Homo sapiens: one gene and its partners. The main gene of each other region encodes a partner of the protein of the gene in region 3 in a complex. Each region holds a gene or a part of one and is shown on either strand. Other genes may lie near its edges. A codon is read from its position in the direction of its gene.

What was found.
Region 1: the proteins of ITGA2B (region 3) and FLNA are in contact, whole or in part, in an NMR structure (PDB 7SFT), measured with the Homo sapiens proteins. Residues at the interface, in NP_000410.2 of Homo sapiens: Trp1019, Lys1020, Val1021, Gly1022, Phe1023, Phe1024, Lys1025, Arg1026, Asn1027, Arg1028, Pro1029, Pro1030; in NP_001104026.1 of Homo sapiens: Thr2263 (codon at 1,602), Gly2267 (codon at 1,590), Ala2268 (codon at 1,587), Gly2269 (codon at 1,584), Gly2270 (codon at 1,581), Leu2271 (codon at 1,578), Ile2273 (codon at 1,572), Ala2274 (codon at 1,569), Val2275 (codon at 1,566), Glu2276 (codon at 1,563), Gly2277 (codon at 1,560), Ser2279 (codon at 1,554), Ile2283 (codon at 1,542), Phe2285 (codon at 1,536), Asp2287 (codon at 1,530), Arg2288 (codon at 1,527), Lys2289 (codon at 1,524), Gly2291 (codon at 1,518), Cys2293 (codon at 1,512), Val2295 (codon at 1,506).
Region 2: the proteins of ITGA2B (region 3) and ITGB3 are in contact, whole or in part, in a cryo-EM structure (PDB 8GCE), measured with the Homo sapiens proteins. Residues at the interface, in NP_000410.2 of Homo sapiens: Gln49 (codon at 5,284), Phe52 (codon at 5,293), Arg72, Trp141, His143, Asn145, Glu152, Ala153, Glu154, Lys155, Pro157, Arg184, Phe191, Tyr197, Glu199, Phe202, Pro217, Tyr221, Phe222, Phe262, Asp263, Tyr265, Tyr268, Thr290, Trp293, Thr294, Gln315, Met316, Ala317, Tyr319; in NP_000203.2 of Homo sapiens: Ser188, Pro189, Tyr190, Tyr192, Ile193, Ser194, Pro195, Pro196, Tyr204, Asp205, Met206 (codon at 5,757), Arg242 (codon at 5,649), Asp243 (codon at 5,646), Pro245 (codon at 5,640), Lys279 (codon at 4,891), His281 (codon at 4,885), Ile282 (codon at 4,882), Ala283 (codon at 4,879), Leu284 (codon at 4,876), Asp285 (codon at 4,873), Arg287 (codon at 4,867), Leu288 (codon at 4,864), Ala289 (codon at 4,861), Gly290 (codon at 4,858), Val292 (codon at 4,852), Gln293 (codon at 4,849), Pro294 (codon at 4,846), Asn295 (codon at 4,843), Asp314 (codon at 2,337), Tyr315 (codon at 2,334).

What each region holds. Positions count from the first base shown.
Region 1 is NC_000023.11:154,350,403-154,357,634, forward strand, and holds part of FLNA (filamin-A), read right to left. Parts: intron 7,222-7,232; coding exon 7,032-7,221; intron 6,873-7,031; coding exon 6,849-6,872; intron 4,671-6,848; coding exon 4,423-4,670; intron 4,310-4,422; coding exon 4,214-4,309; intron 4,082-4,213; coding exon 3,979-4,081; intron 3,890-3,978; coding exon 3,749-3,889; intron 3,642-3,748; coding exon 3,513-3,641; intron 3,326-3,512; coding exon 3,152-3,325; intron 3,056-3,151; coding exon 2,894-3,055; intron 2,803-2,893; coding exon 2,599-2,802; intron 2,523-2,598; coding exon 2,370-2,522; intron 2,274-2,369; coding exon 2,151-2,273; intron 2,046-2,150; coding exon 1,779-2,045; intron 1,620-1,778; coding exon 1,482-1,619; intron 1,295-1,481; coding exon 1,179-1,294; intron 640-1,178; coding exon 507-639; intron 1-506. UniProt on the Homo sapiens protein: Promotes orthogonal branching of actin filaments and links actin filaments to membrane glycoproteins. Anchors various transmembrane proteins to the actin cytoskeleton and serves as a scaffold for a wide range of cytoplasmic signaling proteins.
Region 2 is NC_000017.11:47,284,827-47,292,017, reverse strand, and holds part of ITGB3 (integrin beta-3 precursor), read right to left. Parts: intron 5,759-7,191; coding exon 5,596-5,758; intron 4,949-5,595; coding exon 4,787-4,948; intron 2,338-4,786; coding exon 2,242-2,337; intron 1,834-2,241; coding exon 1,744-1,833; intron 1,065-1,743; coding exon 930-1,064; intron 1-929. UniProt on the Homo sapiens protein: Integrin alpha-V/beta-3 (ITGAV:ITGB3) is a receptor for cytotactin, fibronectin, laminin, matrix metalloproteinase-2, osteopontin, osteomodulin, prothrombin, thrombospondin, vitronectin and von Willebrand factor.
Region 3 is NC_000017.11:44,386,379-44,394,612, reverse strand, and holds the start of ITGA2B (integrin alpha-IIb preproprotein), read left to right. Parts: upstream 1-4,963; 5' UTR 4,964-4,986; coding exon of another isoform or gene 4,987-5,139; coding exon 5,140-5,327; intron 5,328-8,234. UniProt on the Homo sapiens protein: Integrin alpha-IIb/beta-3 is a receptor for fibronectin, fibrinogen, plasminogen, prothrombin, thrombospondin and vitronectin. It recognizes the sequence R-G-D in a wide array of ligands.

The DNA of each region.
Region 1 (7,232 bases), on a different chromosome or scaffold from region 3:
CAGGGTGCATTGGGACGGAAATCTTTTACAAGCCAAACCCAGGCCTTGCTGCCTCCTAAGAAAGGTTACCGTGAACACCATATCCCCTGCATGTTAACAGGCTCAGAGACGGGCAGGAACTTGCTTCAGGTCATGCAGCTGGGAAGGGCAGGACTAGGCCGTGAAATGAAGCCCACTGGGCTCCTCCTACCCACAAGGCTGCCCCAGGCCTGTGCACAAGTACCATGGCCGTGGCTGAAGGGCCGGGCAGCACTGAGGCTGGACTTTGAGTCTTTCCCTGTGGAGATGGCATGGTACTGCAGGGTAGAAGGCCTTCCTAATAGCTGTGGGTGGCGAGCCACATCCCCAGCGGCTTGGGTCACCAATTGGGAAAGGGTTGCCTGGCTTAGGGGGCCCAGGAGTTGGGGCCCCGTCTTGGCTGCTTACAGAAGCGGTACCTTCCTTTTGTACTCTCAGCCTGCTTCCAGCCAGCAGGGCAGGGCGGCCGGGCAGGGACAGGGCCTCACCTTGGTCAATTTCTGTGACATAGCACTCCTCCAGGGCTCCTGAGGGGCTGTGCACCTTGGCATCGATCGCCCCCTTGGCCCCGTTCAGGCTGACTGCAAAAGAGGCTGGCTGGTTGACCTTTAGCCCTGACTCCTGGAAGCACAGCAGACATGGTTAGATGGGGGTGCTTGAGCCAGGGCAAGGGAGGACGGAAAGGCCCCAGGAGCAAGAGGCCCGCGGGTCGCACTTACCCATCTGGCGTCCAACTTGGTTTAAAGAGGGAGAGCCACTGATTTGCAAGGGGCAGCAAGCCACAGGCGCACATCCCCGCCCCTGCCCCCACACTCTGCCGTCGCACACACCCAGGTGGCAGGAAGGGAGGGCTGCCCCACCCTGTGGGCAGCACCCAGCCTTGGCAGGCTGTCCCTCTTTAAACCGCAGCCCTGGTGCTCAAGGGGCACAGGCTTCTGTTCAAAGCCTTTAGACCTGAGACACGAGAAAAACTCCACGTGGTGGGCAGGATATTTCCTGCCGACCCCAAGCGTGGGCTGCACCCGGCCAGAGCAGAGGCCTGGAACCCAGAGCTGGGCCAGGGGGGTCACTGAACACAGGGCCAAGGCCTGGTCTCTGCGGTGGCTCTGGTCTGTCCGGGCCCAGGAGCCCCAGGTGGGCGGTTTCTCTCGGTGCCTCACCTGAAGGCTAGAAACAGTGAGGCGGCGGGCGTCGCCAGACGGAGAAGCCACAGGCACCACGAAGGGGCTGTCGGGAATGTGTTCCTCGTTGAACTTGACTGAGACTTCGTAGTCACCTGGGCAGGGAAAGAGTGTAAGACCGGCTCATCAGCCTTTGGGCCTCCCACCTCCCACGAACAGCCTGGGTGGCCCTGTGACCTCAAAGTGAAGAGTGAGTGCCAGGCAGGGCTATCTGTGCCAGCCCTGGGTCCAATACCCACACTCAGGCCCCACCTCCTCCAACCCCAGCCGGGTTCCCAGTACCTGGCTCCTGGACCACATAAGCCACACCACAGGAGCCGTCCTTGCGGTCCTCAAAAGAGATCTCAGCCTTGCTGGGGCCCTCGACAGCAATGGCCAGGCCTCCAGCACCAGCTTCCCGGGTCCAGATACTGAATTCGGCTGTGGGAGAACAGTTTGTCCTCACTGAAGGCTGCTTCACCAGCCTCGGCCCCCTCCAGGCATAGCCAAGGTAGACATGCCTGCCGGCTCTTTCCTCCACCCCCAACCCCACCCTGGCCAACGCAGGAGAGCGAGCACTCGGGGTGTGAGCAGGCCTACCTGGCACTCCAGCTTCAGCTCTCTCCAGGCCAGGGCCCCCAGCTCGGACCTTGTGGGCTCCCCCTTCCCCTAGGGGCCCCACGGTGAACTGGAAGGGGCTCCCAGGCACGTGCTGGCCCTTGTACTTCACGCTGACTGTGTGTGTGCCCATCTCAGCGGGAACAAAGCGGATGCAGTAGGTGTGGTTCTCCCCTTCCACGATCTCGGCCTCATGGGTCTTGCCCGATGGGCTGGTCACCTGGGCTGTCATATCCTGGATGCTAATTTCTGCAGGGTGGGGATGGGCTAGTGAGCAGCAGCCCTGGGCTCCACCCCTCCTCTTGGGGCTGCTTGAGCCCCAGGACCCCTCCCCAGGCTTCCCACAGCCCCTACCAGGGATTTTCAGGCTGAGGTCACAATGACTACCAACGTTGGCCACTGAAGGAGCCCGACGCCTGCGGGTGATGCTCTCTTTCACCCGGCCCTCGCCTGTCACCTTCACAGAGAAGGGGCTGCCTGCAGGAAGAAAGCACGGCCCACGCCCCTCCAGTCACATACTGCCTGTGGGCCCTGGTGTAGTGAGGGGGGCTGCCGAGGCACTGCTGCACTCACCAGGCACGTGCTGGTCGGCAAACTTGATGTTGATGATGTAGTTGCCTGGCTCTGTGGGGCAGTAGGTGACCCTGCACGTCCCGTCCTCCAGGTCCTCTGTGTTGATGTCCACCTTGCTGGGGCCCTCAATGGACAGGCTGAGCCCACCATAGCCTAGGGGATGGATACCCCTGAGCCTCGGTGCTATGCACAGTGCTCCCGCCCCAGCTGGTGGGCAGCCACTGCCTACCTGCATCGCGGGTATCAATGATAAACTCTGCAGGCTCAAAGGTGTGGCCTTCGTGAAGGCCCTGACCAGAGACCCGAACACGACTGGCATCCCCAATTTCCGACTGGCTGATCACCACCGGGATGGGGCTGCTGGCCACGTGCTGGCCATTTTTCTTCACATGCACCAGGTGCTCCCCCGTCTCCTTGGGCACGAATGAAATCCCTGGACACAGGGCATGGCTGTCAGTCAGGGAGGGCATGGCTCCCCACAGGCTGCCTCCTTTCTGAACCCCCTGGACCCTTCAGCCGCTTACCCACGTGGCCATTACGCAGCCGCTTCAGCAAACAGGGCTCCTCCCGGCCCGAGGGCGGGACCACAGTGGCCGTCAGCAGGCTGAGATCCGTCTCTGAGATGTTGATGGGGATGTCGGCAGCAGAGCCGACCTTTAGGTGGGACATACGCATGGAGTCGTCACCTGGTGGGGACAGGCCAGCCATCAGTGTGCGTCCAGCCATGGGAGACCATGCCCACCCTGCCACCCGTTTCTGTCACTGCTCCCAGTGCCACCCACCTGTGACCCGAGCAGTGAAGGGGCTGCCTGGGACGTGCTGTTCATTGTACTTGACTAGAATGCTGTAGTCCCCCGGCAGCACAGGCAGGTAGGACACGCTGCATGTCCCATCCTGGTTGTCAGTGCAGCTGATTTCTGCTTTGGACGGGCCCTCAATGGCCAGAGACAGGCCCCCTGGAGAGAGCCGTGGGTGAGCATGGGAACTATGCTGGGGACACTCCAGTTGGCCTGCACTGAGGAGCTCCGATGGCCAGGGCAGCAGGGCAGGGAGCCCCATTCAGGAGTATCTCCTGAGTCCAGCCCTTACCCCGGTGAGGGCATCCCGGGCACAGAGCAGGTCAAGACCAGAGCTATTGCTCACCCTCTCCTGCATCCTTGGTGTTGACGGTGAAGGTGGCAGGCTTGTTCACTACTCCATGGGTGAGGCCAGGCCCATAGGCAGTGACATGGCCACAGTTGACGTAATCCACATAGAACTGCAAGGGGCTTCCTGAGGCAGGAAGAAGGGCCTTGTGGAATGGCAGCCTCGTGTGTCCCCCAGCCCCATCTCTCTGTGAGGTGGTGGCGGTGGAGTGGGCAGAGGCAGGGCAGGCCCACCTGGGATGTGCATGTTGTCATAGCGGATGTCCATCTCGTGCAGGCCAGCCTCGCTGGGTGCATACCGCACGGTCACGGTGCCGTCTTTGTTGTCAGTGATGGTGGGCTGCGCCACCTTGCCTGAGGGCATCCGAACCTCCCCTGTGGGGCAGTGGGGCTGAGGTCAGGGCAGCTCATTGGCACAGTCTGGCCTCCTTGGCTCCCGAGCTCCTTCCCAAGTCCCCACTCACCTGTGATCTCGCCCTTCTTGATGGTGAAGGGGATGACAAGGTCAAAGGGCCTCAGGCTGGTCACATCCAGCCCATTGACACCCACCAGGGGCCTCTCCGGGGCCTGCAGTGGAGACACAGGGCATGGGTGAGGGACAGTGGGAGGATCTGGGGTCCCTCCTCACACATGGTAAACTAGGGGCTCACAGAACACCCAGCTGGCTAGCCCCAGTGTCCCTAGCTGGCCAGGCCGTACCCAAGTCTGCTGGCCGCCCTGGGCGTAGGTGTACTGTGGGGCCAGCTGCTGAGACCGTAGAGGGGGCTGCACCGAGGGCTGGTCCCCAGCCAGAGCCTGCAGGGCAAAGCAGAGAGCTGCTGGAGAGTCTGTTGTCACAGAGGGGCCCCAGGGGAACAGGCCGGGACCTGCCAGACACCCCTGCTGACCTACCCCCCACCCCTCCTCACCGTCACTTGGAAGGGGCTGTTGGGCACGTGCTCGCCACCAAAGCGCACACAGATGACGTATTTGCCCGGCTGGGGGGCCGTGTAGAAGATGTCGAAAGTGCCGTCCTCATTCTCCACCACGTCCACATCCACCTCTGAGCCATCAGGCGTGCACACGGTGCACGTCACTTTGCCTTTGCCTGCCGCCTTAGTGTCCACAGTGATCACCGTCTCCTCCCCAATCTGAATGGTGGGGCCGATGCCAGCACCTGGTGGGGCAGGGTGGGTCCCCAAAGGGGGGCCAGCGTGTGAGCTCGGGTTCAGGTTGTTCCCGTCCGCCTGCCGCCCACACAGGCCTCTCATTGCCACCACCAAGCACAGCCAGGCCGCCAGGCCTCCTGCCCCGCCCTGCCCCTCCAAGCTGGGATGGCGAGTGGTTTCTCAGAAGGCAGGAAGGTTTCTCCTGACCACCTCAAGTGCCCATGTGGGAGAGGCCCGACAGTAGCACCCAGGTGCCTGGGAGGAAAAGGAAGGGCCCACTCCAGCCTAAGTGTTGACAGCCACTCCCTTGCCTACTCAGCCTCGTCCAGCACCATGGCCCACACTGCTGAACGCCAGCATCTGGCTGGGCACACGGCTGCCTGCGCCCTTCTGGCCTGGCCCCGGCCCCCATTGCTGTGTGTGGACGCGGTGAGGCGGAGTCCTGCTGCAGCGTGGGGGGATGTGACACTTGCCTCCCCACCCCCCAGGCCTGATGGTGAAACCGGAGTTTCCTGACAACTGAGAAGGCTCGCGGTGAAAAGCAGCCCGGTGCAGACAGGAGTGGGAGCGGGGAAGCGGGAGGCAGCGGGGTTAGCACCCGAGTAGCGCAGCGCAGCAGGCTTGGCAGAGCGGGGATAGCACCCAGGGAGACAGGGAACAGGAGGCCCAAGCTACAGCCACCACTGCTGGGTTGCGAGGGCAGAGCAGCTGAGCAGGCTCCAGGGCCCCAGAGTGCCCGAGGAAAGGGGAGAGACAGTGACGTTATGATCTGGGTCTCCGCCGTGGAGGCTTGGGGGGCTGTGGGCTGTGAGGCCTGGCAGTGAGAGTGCCCCCTGCAGCCTGGCCTCCTGCCAGGGAAGCAGCCAGGAGCACGAAACCTACTTGAAGGCCAAGCTCGAGGGGCCCTGCCACCAAGTCCCACTATCGGCCGAGGGCTCCTGCTGCACTAGGCTCCATGCTGGCCTGCCGCGGCCAGGCAGCTCTCCCAGGCTCCAGACCTGGCTGCCGGCTGCCCACGCTGCCCTGGGAGGCTTCACTCATGTGCACCCCATGCCATCTAGTTAGTGGCTTGGGCCCCAACCTCACAGGTACCCGACTGCCCCCACTTTCCCTGCCCGGCTCCCAGCCAACCGCAGGTCTCAGCCACTCCATCCTCAAAGTATGCCTCCTAATTTGGCTCTCACTGAAGCCCCGTGGCCGTCAAGCTTGCCAGAGAGCAACTTCAGCGCCCCCTTCCCCACCCCGGGCTCCCTGTCTCCATTCTGCAAACAGTAGCCAGGGAAACTGAGGTTACTGAGTCTTGCTCCCACCCTCAAAGCCCCCAAGGCCCTGCAATCAGTACTCCCCAGCCTCCCCCGCCCTGCGCACACACGCCTGTCACACACACATCGGATCCTACGGCCTGCTCTATAAAGCCATCTCGCTCCTGCCGCAAAACTCTAGCCACCCTCTCACCCTTTCCTTAGCCACCTCGCCCAAGTGCCAGGCCTGTAGCCTCTCATCAGCATCCCTGGGTGTCCCTGGCTGGGGCAGGTGACCCTCCATGCCTGTTGGGGAATGTCTGAATAACGTCACTGCTGGGGGATAGGGGAAGGGGGAAGGAGGGAGACGGGCCACAGAATGCACTTTGGGGCTCTGAGGCTGGGCCGGGCCCCGCCATGCTGGCCGCCCAAGCAGTCGACACTGGCGCTACTGCACTACCAGCCAGCCCCACCCGCTCATGCACCTCCCCCGGCCCGGGACGCAGAGGCCCCTGGAAGGTGGGGATGGGGGTCTGTGGATCTGGCCAGGGCTGGGGCTCCCATTGAGTTGGGGAGACCCCTTGTTCCCTCAGCCCACGCAGGAGCCCTTGTGCCTCCCTGGGTGCCAAGATCCCGAGACCCCAAAGTCCCCAGTGGGGTGCCTCTCAGGATGCACCTCACCCCAAAGCTCTCAGCTGCAACCCGAGTTCTCAGATGGGGAAATAAAGGCCCAGAGAGGGGAAGAGCTGGAGCGGTCATGCTCAGCTCCGGAAGCCTCCCTGGGCCCTCGCCCTCCAGCCCACGGCCTCATCTTCTGCACCCCACCCAACTCTGTCCCTGCCTAGAGCTGCAGCTGGAACTGTCCTGGGAATCGGCCCCAAGAGGAAAGGAAGCTGCCCCTCTGGGCAGGAGGGGCATTGGGAGTGGCCCCAGCAAGCAGCTTACCTAGCCCGTGACCTCCGATTGACACTGAGGTGAGAGGGCAGAGAGCAAGGAGAAAGGTCAGGTGAGTCACTCAAGGGGGCGGCCCCCACTCCCACACGCCGCCCCAAGCAGCGAGCCCTTGCACACAGGCACAACCCAAGCCCCGTGCCGAGCGCCGCAGCGGCCAACAGCGGGCGGGCTCACCTGTGACAGTGCACTTGCTGGCGTCCCCGGTGGGCACGGCACGCACGCGGTACGGGGAGAAGGGGATCTCGTCACCACCGTACTTGATGAGGATGGTGTAGCGACCTGTCACGTCTGGCACGTAGGCCACTGTATACGTGCCGTCATGGTTGTCTTGGATGTGTGTCTTCTTCGGCTTGCCTTCGGGATCCTGTGTGGCAG
Region 2 (7,191 bases), 2.9 Mb from region 3:
TTTGCAATCTGGAGTTCCTCAGCCTTCCCTATATGAAGGTCTGCAAAGCAAAAACACAAGCACGGGAATAGTATCGTTGTGACATATCTAGCTGGATGCAGAGACATGGTTTACAGTCAATAAATAATAAAAGGCTGTTTTTTCACTCCACATATGAAATAGACCAGCTCAAACTGAACAGAACCTGTGATCATATAAACACCCTGCTTTGGCCTGATTATAATTATCAGCAAGATGCACAAAGCACTATTTTGCACCACACAATCCCACATGGTGGTCAATCATAAGCTCAGGATCTACTTCAGTTCCCACACATTTCATAGCTTATGCAATAAAGCATGTTTCAGGACAATATTTCTAACATGGGATGTTTGCACAAGTGCCTGAGAGACAGATAGGTCAATAGAAAGGATCAGCGTATCCAAAGATCTATTTTCTTCCCCTCCTTCCTCCCCTCCCACCAACCCCTCTCCCCTTAGGCAGAAGCGGAGGAGAAACGACCAATAAGGAAAGTCGTGGAGAGACTGGAGTGTTTTACATTTTAGATTTTACTTTCTTGTGTCGTTTTACAAAAGAAAGGTATTAATTACCTTGGAAAGGCTGGCGACTGGTGAGGGACTGAAGGTAAAGAAATATTTTCCTTTGCAATCAACTGTGCATACACAAACAAAGGTAACCAAATTGTAAGTTTTTCAAATTCCTGAGAGTGAAGTTCACGTAACAGAAATGGCTTACGCAACAGAAGCCTCAGAGGAAAAGATTGGTGGATCCATTACATCTAACTTAGAATGACTTTCAGGAAACGTATTTTTCTTGCCCATATTTTTTTTCTGGTGGAAGGGGGCCATTTTTAGTCACTACAAAAGGAAGAAAGGGGGTTGGGTGCCCACAGATGCTCCAGGACAAAGGCCCTGCCCAGCCCACCTCACCGTGTCTCCAATCTTGAGTCCCATACAAGACTTGAGGCCAGGGATGACCTCATTGTTGAGGCAGGTGGCATTGAAGGATAGAGACAACTCTTCAGGGAGGTCACGCACTTCCAGCTCTACTTTAGAACGGATTTTCTGAGCAGAAAGGGGCACAAGAAGACAAGAAATTGAACTGAAAGGAAACGGGAAATGGCAAGAGCCAGTTCCATCCCAAGCCAAATCTGGCAAGTAGCTCTGGACTCACCCCAGCAGTGCCAGAGGCCAAGGTTTGACCTGGAAGCTGCCGGAGCACCCCTAGGACTCTGTTTCCTGCGCAGGAACCTGCTCCCTCTTTCCATCTCCACTTGCGTCTAGGTGAGTCTGGGTAAAATGTACCAGCTACACCCTCCTGCAGGCCTCACAGATGTTGCAAAAGGGGAGTGCCAATACTGGTCACCTTGGAAAGTGGCATTTTCTACCTAATGTTTCATCAACCTCACCTTCCCCATGTCTCAGCTCTCTCTTTTCCCTGTTATTGGAGCCCAGTTTTCCCTCACTCTGCCCCCACAATTCCAGGGCTCTGCTCCTTCTCCATCTAATCACCATCCCCATCCCCATCTTCTTTCCTTCTTTCTCTCTTCCTTCCTTCCTTCCTTCCTTCTCAGAAGGCTGCATCCCTTCTAGAGCGGGCCATTGCCTGGGCTCTGGGAGCACACGGAGAAGGCAGTAAGACCGTGTGGTAGACTGGCAACTGGGACTCACAAATCTGAGCCCTGCTGTGTAAGCCAAATGAGGTGGACTCTCCGCGGGACTATTCCCAGCACAAGACACTTACCCCATAAGCATCAACAATGAGCTGGAGGACATTGCTGGAATCCATGGACAGAACCCCAACTGTGGTCCCTGGGATGAGCTCACTATAGTTCTAGAAAGGAAAACAAAGATGTCCAGAGCTTACCAAAGGAAGCTGGTGGTCTCCAAAAGCCCTCCCCAAATCCCACTGAGAGTCCTGAGATGAAGATTGGAGGAAGGTACGGGATATTTCAATTGTCACTGCCAGGAATATATCTAGCAGTTTTTCAGCCCTGAGCAAAAGTAGAGGAAACCTCTCACACCCCTCACCACCTCCCCTCCACCACCACAAACACCAACACATACCTAGTAAGTTCAAGATTGCAGGAAAAAGGCCCAGAGTGCAATCTTTAGCTCCTGGGGAGTGGATTAGGGGAGACTCTTTCCTGATTGGGGACTGTATCCAATGCTAGCACAGGCTGGCTACCTGGGGCACCCACCATCACAGGGCCCACTCCAGGAAGCCCGAAGGCACAGTCACCTGATAGAGATTGACTACATTTTCAGTCACTGCAAAGATCAAATTGATGTTTTTCTGGGATAGCTTCTCAGTCATCAGCCCCAAAGAGGGATAATCCTAGGAAAATGAAGGATGTAGAGGTTAATGACGTCTCATGTACATCTCTAGGGTCTAAAGCTTAGAACTTATCTTGCTTGGGCTGTGGCTCAGAGTGTGGTGGTGCTTAAACCATTTCACTTCATGCTGAAAGTGAGACAAGAGCCTGGGCAACATAGCAAGACCCCATCTCTACAAAAAAATTTTTTTTATTTGCCAGATGTGGTGGTAAGTGCCTATAGTCCTAGCTACTGGGGAGGCTGAGGCAGGATCACTTCAGCCCAGGAGTTGGAGGTTACAGTGAGCTATGATTGCACCACTGCACTCCAGCCTGGGCAGCAGAGCAAGACTCTGTCTCTAAAAAAAAAAGGGGGGTGACAGTGAGATAAGAAGGGTAAGTAGCACAGAAGTCTACTTGTGAACTCCAGGGATAGACGAAGAGGTACAGGCCAGTGGTGTCAAAACTAAGCACCTCTTTCTTCCTGCTTGAATTTAATGCACTAATACTATGGAGCTGCTTCCGTGCACAAGGGACTGGGTTAGGCCTCTGTTTTGGAACTACTGACAAATGCCTTGGCCTGGCCCTCGTGATCCTCCACCGTGTGGTCTCAGTCTTTCTTTCCAAATATTGCTCACCTCTCTCCCTCTTCCACTCAGCAGTGATCTGGCCCACTGTCTCCCACCTGGAGTGGCCTTCTTGTTGGTAATCCTCCTCCTTTCTTAGGGCCTAGCTTAGCCCCCACCTTCTTCAGGAGACTTCCTTGGCCATCCCAGCTCATGATGACCTTTCCTCCCTTGGATACGTATAGCCACATTGGCTGTGCCACACCCATTTGGCACTAATCATGCATCTTGTGTTATTGTAAATATATATATCCTTTCTCCTCAAGTAGACCAAAAACTCCCCAAGGATAGAACCATACATAGTCTTGTTACCTCCCTCAGCCCCTGGCCCAGTGCCTTGCATAGATTAGGGGTCAAATGTTGCTGACTCATTGTCTGGTAGTGCTTGACTTGGATATGGCTGACACCAAGGAACTCAAGGACACTGTGCGGGGGCGGTGGTGAATCGTGAACATGTCCATGGGATCCTAGACCTTGCAGGGAGCTCATTAGATCCTCAGCTCAGTCTCCTGCCTTTACACAGGTACACCTTTAAGTCACCTAGATGAGGAAGTTGCTATATTGTCCTTAGGAGACGAAGAGTTCACACCTGCCCCAGATACCTAGAGCATTACAGCACATTTCTCTTATGGCTTATAGTAATTTCTCCTGATTCAATTTAAATATTTTCCTCTTGTTTAACCTTCTATGGCCATATAAAACAACTTATAAGAAGTTTTCTCATGTATAAGCTAAATCATCCTTTAGCCTTCTTTCTTTCAAGCTAAATGACTCTGGCCCTTTAATCTTTCCTCGTAGGACCTGTTCACCATGCCTTTTATGTTCTTTCCCCTCTTTCTCTCTCTCTCTCTCTCTCTCTCTCTCTCTCTCTTTCTAAGAGAAGGGGTCTCCACTAGGAGCAATGGCTCACACCTGTAATCCCAGCACTTTGGGAGGCTTAAGAGGGCAGATTGCTTAAGCCAAGGAGTTTGAGACCAGCCTGGGCAACATAGAAAGACCCTGTTTTCAAAAATTAGCTGGGCATGGTAGTGCATGCCTGTGGTCCCAGCTATTCAGGAGACTGAGGTGGTGAAGCTTGTGAGCCAAGATTGCACTACTGCACTCCAGCTGGGCAACAAAGCAAGACTCTGTATCAAAAAAAAAAAAAAAAAAAAAAAAAAAAAAAAGCAGGGGTGGTTCTTGCTCTGTCACTCAGGCTGGAGTGTAGTGGCAAGATCACAGCTCACTGCAGCCTCAGACTACTGGGCTCAAGAGATCTTTCTGCCTCAGCCCCACAAGTAGCTGGGACCATAGGCACAAACCACAACACTCAACGAATTTTTGCATTTTCTTGTAGAGGCAGGGTCTCACTATATTTCCCAAGCTGGTTTCAAACTCCTGGACTCACGTGATCCTCCCACCTCAGCCTCCCAAAGTGCTGAGATTACAGGCATGAGCCATCATATGCCTGGCCAATCTTTCTCTTTTTTTTCCTCTGTCTTCTTCCAATAACCACAAGTTAGTATGGTATTCCAAGAAAGGGCTAATCAGAGTGGAGAGGAAGACCTGCTTTCCAGCTGGGTTGTAAAAATCCTTTGGGTCCATTCTGGATCCCATGATGCTGCTGCTATGCTGGTGACAGTGAAGGCAGTGATAACACCACAATCAGGGACATCTCTAATGGTTATATAGGTTGTATGCTGGATGACGGTGTCCAGTTGGTAAGGGATAGGGGCAAGCTGGAACCGAGCCCTGCACCCTGCCCAGAAGGAGGGGCTGCCATTTTCATATTCACACAGACTCTGCCTAGATTAGGGCAACCCTCACAATCATGAATAGAAACCATAGGTGGTGCCAGAGATCTCACCATGGTAGTGGAGGCAGAGTAATGATTGTCACTACCAACATGACACTGCCCGTCATTAGGCTGGACAATGCCTGCCAGCCTTCCGTCCAATGCTATATGAGTCTTGGCATCAGTGGTAAACACCAGCAAGTGGGATGCATCATTCCTCCAGCCAATCTTTTCCTGTTAAAAGAAAACAAAAAACAAAGGCAGAGGAGACAAAACAAATTCAGCCATGTCACTGGTAGAGAACAGAGACCCAAGGTGCTCCCTGGCTAAAGGGCTGGACAGCTTATTTTTCTTCAAAACAAGGGTCTCAGTCCCAGTCCTTGGAACCGAAGCTGAAGCTTTCCAGTTCAGGAGTTTCATTCTCTTCAGAAAACAGTCTCATAGCTGATTAGTTCAAGCAGCTGAATGAGATCTTCTTAAACTCCAAACTTAACTCTTCTAATGACAGTCACATTGCTCATCTAGAAACTGACGTGCATCCACAGAGCTGATCTGGGCTAGAAGAAATCTCATCTGAACATCTGCCTACTTTGCTGAGGTTAAGTTAACTCAGCCTTAACTCTGAAGTAACTCTGAAGATGGGAAGATGCTCTCCCCTGGGAACATCTGAGACCACTGAGGTTCAAAGAAATGTCAGCTCAGGCCAGGGAGTGGATCTAAGCCAAGGCTGAATATCAGGAGCAACTTACTACTCATAACTGCAGGAAGCCCTGCTTAGTTCTCATCTCATTTTACACCAGAAATCCCCAGAGTTCAGTCACTTCCTTTCCCATTTTGATCTATGCCAGCCACACCTGGCACTCCAAGTCCTCCAAACTCACATCACAGACTGTAGCCTGCATGATGGCATCAAAGCCACCCTCTGGGGCATCTCGGTTCCGTGACACACTCTGCTTCTTCACTTCCTCATTGAAGCGGGTCACCTGGTCAGTTAGCGTCAGCACGTGTTTGTAGCCAAACATGGGCAAGCAGGTGGTCTTCATACTGGGGAGGGATGGGAGATAATTTAAGCAGACACCTTCATGGAAAAGGCAGCATGGGAATTGGGAGGAAAGAGAGGGGACAAATATAGATAGTGGTATGCCAAGGCCAGTTCCATACAACCACAGTTACCCAGACAGTTCAGACTCCAAAATCCTCAAATTATCTGAAGCTCCCCATCAACATTACCCCCATCCAGCTAACCTAGAAGATAAGAGATTGAGCTGGAAACAAGACTCCCTGAGCTTAGATCCCAGGTGCCCTCTGTACTAGTCATGGGACCTTTGGCAAGCCTCTCAATCCAACCTATGAAAGAGGGGCCAGGATAGCACATATCCCATAAGAGTTGTGAGACTTAAGTAAGTTCATACACACAAAGCACTTAGACCAGAGCGAGGCTCGAGTTGCTATTACTATCACCTTATACTTAACACTTTCCTAAAGTAACAATAAAGCAAAAGTCCATCAGTAAGTTAAGGTCCCTGAACCATCAATAAATTGATAGATCATGCAAGACAGGAGCATTTCTGCCCCCAGTCAAAATAGTGTGTTTAATTAATAGCTGATGTCTTGCCTGGGAACCTTACAACCCAGATAGAAGGTTGAATGCCACATCATATAACTTCAAAACTTTTTCTTTTTTTTTTAGAGACAGTTGTGCTCCATTGTCCAGGTTGGAGTGCAGTGGCACAATCATGGCTCACTGCAGCCTCAACCTCCCAGGCTCAATCAATCCTCCCACCTCAGCCTCCCTGTAGTCCTGGGGACTGCAGGCATGCGCCATCACACATAGCTAATTTTTTTGTAATTTTTGTAGAGATGGGGGTCTCACTATGTTGCCTAGGCTGAACTCAAACTCCTAGGCTCAAGTGATCCTCCCATCTTGGCCTCCCAAAGTGCTGGGATTACAGAAGTGAGTCACCCCACCTGGCCGTAACTTTGAAAACTAAAAAGTAAATTCACACCTTTTCAGGCTCAGCAACCAGCATTGTAAGTTATTCTAATACATGGATTTGCACAGTCTCCACCGATTAAATAAATAAGCCATTCAGTTTTAAGCCAAAGTGTCAAACAGAGGCACAAGTTATCCATTTACAGACTATAAAAGTGTCCAACAAATGTCATTTCCACTCTTTTATATTCCTTAGCACTTCATTTCTTCTGTTTTCACCCTGCAGGATGCACGGCCTTGATGAAGACAATAATGCCAACAATGGAATCGATCCTTCTGTAATCGTAATTTCTCGGTTTCCTTATCCATAAATTTCTTTCTACTTTTGACGTCATTTCCCTCCCATTCTCTCTTGCCTTCTATTTATTTGTTACCAAGACTGAGAAGCTGATGAATTTTCTTTCTAGGTTCTCCAAACAGCCTTAGGCTCCATTGACACAACACTCCAGATCCACAAGCTAGCCCATTTGCCAAACAGGGAGAC
Region 3 (8,234 bases):
TCAGCCTTTCAAGAAGGAAAGGCTTTCTTTCCTACTGTCTTTTGATACATTTCTTTCCTACTCTGTTTGATACATCTGTGTTCTCCCTTTGATTAAAGAGGAGCTGTTCAACTTGAACCTGGGGTTGAGTACTCAGATCTGCCTATATTCCTAAAATAGCAAAGATCCTTACCCAGAAAGAAATGACATTAGACCTACAAAAATTAGCCGGGCGTAGTGGCACACGCCTGTAATCCCAGTTACTCGAGAGGCTGAGGCAGGAGAATCGCTTGAACCGGGAGGTTGCCGTGAGCCAAGATCACACCACTGCACTCTAGCCTGGGCAACAGCGTGAGACCCTGTCTGTCTCACACACACACACACACACACACGTTAGAAAATGAAAAGTGAGGCCAGGTGTGGTGGCTCATGTCTAATCCCAGCACTTTGGAAGGCCAAGGCAGGTGGATCACTTGAGGTCAGGAGTTTGAGATCAGCCTGGCCAACATGGTGAAACCCCATCTCTACTAAAAATTTAAAAAAAAAAAAAAAATTGGCCAGGCATGGTGGTGCATGCCTGTAATTGCAGCTACTCAAGAGGCTGAGGTAGGAGAATCGCTTGAACGTGGGAAGTGGAGGTTGCAGTGAGCCAAGATCATGCCACTGCACTCCAGCCTGAGTGATAGAGTGAGACTCCGTCTCAAAAAAAAAAAAAAAAAAAAAAAAATGGGCGGGGCACGGTGGCTCAAGCCTGTAATCCCAGCACTGAGGCCGAGGTAGGCGAATCACGAGGTCAGGAGAGATCGAGACCAGCCTGACTAACATGGTGAAGCCCCGTCTTTACTAAAAATACAAAAATTAGCCAGGCATGATGGCGTGCGCCTATAATCCCAGCTATTCAAGAGGCTGAGACAGGAGAATCACTTGAACCCGGGAGGCAGAGGTTCCAGTGAGCCAAGATCATGCCACTGCATTCCAGCCTGGGTGACAGAGTGAGACGCCATCTCAAAAACAAAAAAAAAGTGATTTTCTGAGAGCAGGGGAGGTGACAAGTCAAAGAGGCAGACTGGACTGTATAGAGTGTTATGTGAAGATACGTGCAGTTAATTGCCTTGTTCTGATAAGGCCTCAGCCACCTTGGCCTGAAACATGAAAGTACTCCCTCTTCAAACCCTTGATGACTAATTCAGGCCTCGTCAGCCATTTCCATTCTTATTTGCCAAAGACAGCTTCACTCACTTCTACCAACTCATATCTCAATTTTTGCAGCATTTTCCTGGGTGGCCTTCCTGACTAGAACCTAATTTCCTGTTCTGTGTAAGCTTACTGGCTTTTCAGAATCTGAATGCAGCTCATTTTGTATTCATTGCTTCCCAGTAAAATTGTAATCTCTGAGAGAACAGGGAGTGATTCTTATATCCCCCCACCGCAGCCCCCAACGTATCTCACACTGAATACATAGTAAACATTTTGATTATATGTTCAAGAATATGAGCAAAGTGGCCAGGCACAGTGTCTCATGCCTATAATCCCAGTACTTTGGGAGGCCAAGGCAGGAGGATCTCTTGAGCTCAGAAATTCGAGGCCAACCTGGGTAACATAGCAAGACCCCATCTCTACAAAACAATTTAAAAATTAGCTGGGCATGGTGGCACAAGCCTGTGGTCCCAGCTATTCATGAAGCTGATGTGGGAGGACTGCTTGAGCCCAGGGGTCAAGTCTGTAGTGAGCCATGTTCAGGTCACTGTACTACAGCCTGGGTGACAGAGCAAGATCCTGTCTCAAAAATAAAAAGAATATGAGCCAAGTAAAATATCATTAACTGAGGATTGTGCATCAGAATTGAGCCAAAAAAAATTCAAAAATGTGTTTTTTGGTTTTTGGTTTTTTGGGTTTTTTGAGATGGAATTTTGCTCTTGTTGCCCAGGCTGGAGTGTGATGGCACGATCTCGGCTGACCGCAACCTCCGTCTCCCAGGTTCAAGCAATTCTTCCTCAGCCTCCCAAGCAGCTGAGATTATAGGTGTGCACCACCACACCCGGCTAATTTTTGTATTTTTAGTAGAGACAGGGTTTTGCCATGTTGGCCAGGCTGATCTCAAACTCCTGGCCTCAAGCGATCCGCCCACCTTGGCCTCCCAAAGTGTTGGGAGATTACAGGTGTGAGCCACCATGCCCAGCAAAAAAAAAAAAAAAAAAAAAAAAAATTGTTTTTTAGGCATAGTCTTACTCTTGCCCAGGCTGGAGTGGAGTGGCAAAATCGTAGTGCACTGTAACCTAAAACTCGTGGGCTCAAGTGATTCTCCTGCCTCGGCCTCCTCAGTAGCTGGAACTACAGGTGTGCACTACCGTGCCTGGCTAATTTTAATTTTTTTGTAGAGACAGGGTCTCACTATGTTGCCCAGGCTGGTCCCAAACACCTGGCTTCAAGCAATCCTCATCTTGGCCTCCCAAAGTGCTAGGGTTACAGGCATGAGCCACCAAACCTGGTGTAAAAAATCTTTATAATTTTATTTTTCTTTTCTTTCTTTCTTTTTTTCTTTTTTGATGGAGTCTCACTCTGTCGCCCAGGCTGGAGTGCAGTGGCATGATCTTAGCTCACTGCCACCTCCGCCTCACAGGTTCAAGCAATTCTTTTGCCTCAGCCTCCCAAGTAGCTGGGATTACAGACACACACCACCACGCCCAGCTAATTTTTGTATTTTTAGTAGAGACGGGGTTTCACTAGGTTGGCCAGGCTGGTCTCAAACTCCTGACCTTGTGGTCCACTCGCCTGGGCCTCCCAAAGTGCTGGGATTACAGGCATGAGCCACCATGCCCGGCTAAAATCTTTATGATTTTCCATCCCCCATGGATTAAAGTTCAGATTCCTTAATATGGCATTCAAGGACCTCCAGTAATTTGAATCCCCAAGCTTTACCCCCTTGCGCCTCAGTCCAACCCTTTAAGCATTCTGCTATGCTGAGTCAACTACTTGTCCTTCCCTACCTCTGTGTTCCTTTGCTGCTCTCATGTATTCTCTATGCCTAAAAACCCTTTCATTCTCTGACAAAAGGCAACTTGAACATGAGTTCAAGTGCAACCCATGTTTGAATCTTAGTTTTGCCATCTGTTGGCTGCGTAAACATGGGCAATTTACCTAAAACTCTTGTGCCACAGTTTTGTGTTTATAAAATGGGCATAATAGTACTTATTTCCTAGGGTTGTTATGAGTAACAATGATATACGACTTTGATAATCTGTGTATTTTTCAAGGCATGCTTGACTGTCTCTCTGCTGCAGTTATGTGTGTTCATGTCTTAACTCTTTCTGGGCTGTTTGTTAAGTCTCCTTGATGGCTATCTTTGGAGTTTTTAAAATATTTTATTTTTTATAATTTTAAAATAGAGACGAGGTCTCACTGTATTGCCTAGGCTGGTCTTAAATGCCTGAGCTCAAGCCATCCTCCTGCCTCAGCCTCCCAAAGTGCTGGGATTACAGGCATGAGCCACTATACCTGGCCTAATGGTTATCTTTGTATCCTTTATCAACACAGTGCCTTGAACAGAGTAAATACTTATTGAAAACTTGAGTGAAATGTAAGTTCATATTTGGCCTCACAGAATACACCAGTAATACAGCAATCACTCACCTGAGGACAGTGGGAGGATAGAAGGTAAGTAGAGGACTGGGTTAAGTATTCGTTCAAGCAAATACATTAATTACACGCCTCCCATGTACTTGACACTGGGAACTCAGCAATGAAGAAGGCCCAGACCAAAGTTCAGGCTTTTAGCTTCCTGTCCTATAAAGGATAAGATTCTTAACTCTAGGCTGAGGTAGTAAATTACGAGGGGACTTCAAAATGGTACAGGGTGGTTGAGCAGGATACGGCAATGGTTAAGTTTGATCAGAAAATAGAAATCAAAAGGAAAATGTGGCTATGGTTACCCCTAGCGGACCTCTTAAATCTTCCTGAGAACCTGCTTTTTTGGGAAGGCATGAGTGCCAGTAAGACTTGGCACTCCTCCTCTTCCGCTTACCGAGAGAAAATGACTTTGCCTTTCTGCTCAAAACTCATCCCTTCACTTTGTCACCCTATGTTTGCATCTTCCATCCTTAGTGTGTGTTTCCATCCAGTCTTTCAGCAATACACGTACTACACATTGGACTCTTGGGTAGTCTCTAGGGCTGTAGCAAGGAGCCTTGCTCCCAAGGGACTCATTTACACAATCCTGTGAACGGACCAAGAGTAAACAGTGTGCTCAATGCTGTGCCTACGTGTGTTAGCCCACGCGGCCAGCCTGAGGAGTCAGGGAAGGCTCCCCTAGGCAAAGCCCCCAACCAGAATCAAGTCTTAATGGTTAAAGAGCTCCATCACCCAAAAAGGATTGAGGGCCTACCTTCAACTGAACAGCTAATGCATAATCTCAGAAACTGTGAGTCAAAATTCCCTGGAATAACTCCACTTTATCCCCAATCTCCTTGCCACCTAGACCAAGGTCCATTCACCACCCTGTCCCCAGCACTGACTGCACTGCTGTGGCCACACTAAAGCTTGGCTCAAGACGGAGGAGGAGTGAGGAAGCTGCTGCACCAATATGGCTGGTTGAGGCCGCCCAAGGTCCTAGAAGGAGGAAGTGGGTAAATGCCATATCCAAAAAGATACAGAAGCCTCAGGTTTTATCGGGGGCAGCAGCTTCCTTCTCCTTCCCCGACCTGTGGCCAAGTCACAAAGCACCACAGCTGTACAGCCAGATGGGGGAAGGGAGGAGATTAGAACTGTAGGCTAGAGTAGACAAGTATGGACCAGTTCACAATCACGCTATCCCAAGCAGAAAGTGATGGTGGCTTGGACTAGCACGGTGGTAGTAGAGATGGGGTAAAGATTCAAGAGACATCATTGATAGGCAGAACCAATAGGACATGGTAATAAACTATTCTCAGGAAAGGGGAGGAGTCATGGCTTTCAGCCATGAGCATCCACCCTCTGGGTGGCCTCACCCACTTCCTGGCAATTCTAGCCACCATGAGTCCAGGGGCTATAGCCCTTTGCTCTGCCCGTTGCTCAGCAAGTTACTTGGGGTTCCAGTTTGATAAGAAAAGACTTCCTGTGGAGGAATCTGAAGGGAAGGAGGAGGAGCTGGCCCATTCCTGCCTGGGAGGTTGTGGAAGAAGGAAGATGGCCAGAGCTTTGTGTCCACTGCAAGCCCTCTGGCTTCTGGAGTGGGTGCTGCTGCTCTTGGGACCTTGTGCTGCCCCTCCAGCCTGGGCCTTGAACCTGGACCCAGTGCAGCTCACCTTCTATGCAGGCCCCAATGGCAGCCAGTTTGGATTTTCACTGGACTTCCACAAGGACAGCCATGGGAGGTGAGCCGTAAGGGAAGTTGGGGTATTGGGAGAGAGCAGGACCCCTCCCCATCACTGCTTCTGGGGGCTTCGAGTTTCCCATTTGCGATAGCAGTTGAGCAAGGTGACTTGTGGGGCCTATTCAGGTTGATTTCTTGTCAAGAATGTTGGGGTCCAGGGGACTGGCTCAGGTGAAGGTATAAGGGCAGGGCACATGTGGGCTGATGGGCACTGAAAACTACAGCAAGAACAAAGGGAAGACAAGAGTTGATGCTTTATTTTTTCCCCAAGGGTCAGTTGTATGAACCACTCCACCCTCAACACCTTGAAATGCAGAGAGGAGGCCGGGCGCGGTGGCTCATGCCTGTAATCCCAGCACTTTGGGAGGCCGAGGCGGGCAGATCACCTGAGGTCGAGAATTCGAGACCAGCCTGACCAACATGGAGAAACCCCGTCTCTACTAAAAATACAAAAAAAAAAAAAAAAAAGAGACCAGGCACAGTGGCTCACACCTGCAATCCCAGCACTTTGGGAGGCAGAGGTGGGCAGATCATGAGGTCAGGAGTTCAAGACCAGCCTGGCCAATATGGTGAAACCCTGTCTCTATTAAAAATACAAAAATTAGCTGAGCGTGGTGGCACACTCCTGTAGTCCCAGCTACTCGGGAGGCTGAGGTAGGAGAATCACTTGAACCCGGGAGGTGGAGGTTGCAGTGAGCTGAGATCATGCCACTGCACTCCAGCCTGGGTGACAGAGTGACACTCCGTCTCAAAAAAAAAAAAATTAGCCGGGCGTGGTGCCGCATGCTTGTAATCCCAGCTACTCGGGAGGCTGAGGCAGGAGAATCGTTTGAACCTGAGAGGCAGAGGTTGTGGTGAGCCGAGATCATGCCATTGCACTCCAGCCTGGGCAACGAGAGCGAAACTCTGTCTCAAAAAAAAAAAAAAAAAAAAAAGAAAGGAAATGTGGAGAGGAGCACATGTCCTAAATTGATTTGCAGAACTAAAGTTGTCTACCCTCCCGCACCTTGCATTTCTGTTCCATTTCCCTCATCTCCATCAACATTATAAATATTTGAAAAGAAGCAATAGGTCATTAATGATTAGTATTGATCAGGCTTCAGAATCAAGAGTGCCAAGATTAGAGTCTTGGCTCCTCCTCTTCATAGCGTGTACCCTGAGCTACTATTGTGAGAGACACTGTGCCCACCAGCTTCAGGGAGTGGCAATGGGTGGCAATGGCAGATAGCCTTCAAGTGTCAGCCACTTAGGGGATTTCCTCTGCTGAAGAGAGCCAGTTCACTCCAAGTCCCCTCCCAAGATGGCCCACATCCAGTGTCTGATCAATGAGAAGTGGGTGAGTGGGGAGAGTGGAGGCAGGTGTGGGGGAGGCATTTGATAAGGGTCCAGCCCTCTTTCATCAACTCTGACAATTCTTTTTTTCTTCTTCTTCTTTTTTTTTTTTTTTTTTTTTTTTTTTTGAGATGGGGTTTCGCTCTTGTTGCCCAGGCTGGAGTGCAATGGCACAATCACTGGCTCACCGCAACTTCTGCCTCCCGGGTTCAAGCGATTCTCCTGCCACAGCCTCCCGCGTAGCTGGGATTACAGGCATGTGCCACCACACCCGGCTAATTTTGTATTTTTAGTAGAGACGAGGTTTCTCCATGTTGGTCAGGGTGGTCTCGAACTCCCAACTTCAGGTGATCCACCCGCCTTGGCCTCCCAAAGTGCTGGGATTACAGGCTTCAGCCACCATGCCCAGACTTTTTTTCTTCTTTTTTTTTGAGATGGAGTTTCGCTCTCGTTGCCCAGGCTGGAGTGCAATGGGGTGATCTCGGCTCACTGCAACCTCTGCCTCCTGGGTTCAAACGATTCTCCTGTCTCAGCCTCCCGAGTAGCTGGGATTACAGGTGCATGCCACCATGCCCGGCTAATTTTTGTATTTTTAGTAGAGACAGGGTTTCACTATGTTGGCCAGGCTGGTCTCAAACTCCTGACCTCAGGTGATCAGCCTGCCTCGGCCTCCCAAAGTACTGGGATTACAGGCGTGAGCCACCACACCCGGCCAACTCTGACAATTTTGAAGGGTCATTCTAGTTCCAAAGCTCGTGGGGTGTTGGCGAATGCTGTCATTGGGCCTGAATCAGCTCAACTCCTTCCTGTGCCCACTCCTGCTGATTTCCCCTCCTATAAGTAGTGATCCCATTGGCACTACTTAAACATCCTGCAGGCTAAAAAAATATTATGGGCCAGACACAGAGGCTCACGCCTGTAATCCCTTGGCCTCCCAAAGTGCTGGGATTACAGGTGTGAGCCACCATGCCCAGCCTATAAAAAAATTTTTTTTAATTAGCCAGGCATGGTGTTGCACACCCGCAGTCCCAGCTACTAGGGTGGCTGAGGGGAGAGGATTGCTTGAGCCCTGGAGATCAAGGCTACAGTGAGCTGTGATCATGCTGCTGCACTCCAGCTGGGCAACAGAATGAGACCCTGTCTCAAAACAACAAAATTATTTTTTAAAATTATAGCATTGTTTCAAGAGCGTTTGTTATGTATTTGGCTGGGACCATGCTAACCGTTACTCGTATTTATTACATTTACTCCTGACAGCATTGACTGGTTGTGAAAACCAGTCATTGGTTATGAAATTGGTATTCCTATTTCACATATGGCAGAATTGTGATTTAAACCTAGATCTGCTAGGGTCCTCCTATCAGCACACACACTCCAGCCCCACTTTAGAGGTACCCGCTACCTTCCCTCATTAAAACCAGCTCTCAAGAGGGGATCTGGTAACAGTCTAGGCAGGCATTCCAGGGAGCATGTGAACCGCTGGTTCTTGTTGCGGGTGGAAGGATGGAGGTGTTGTACAGAGTTTAGGTCTTTTTCAGCAAAGATCTCAAACCCCTGGTGTTCAAATCAAACCAAA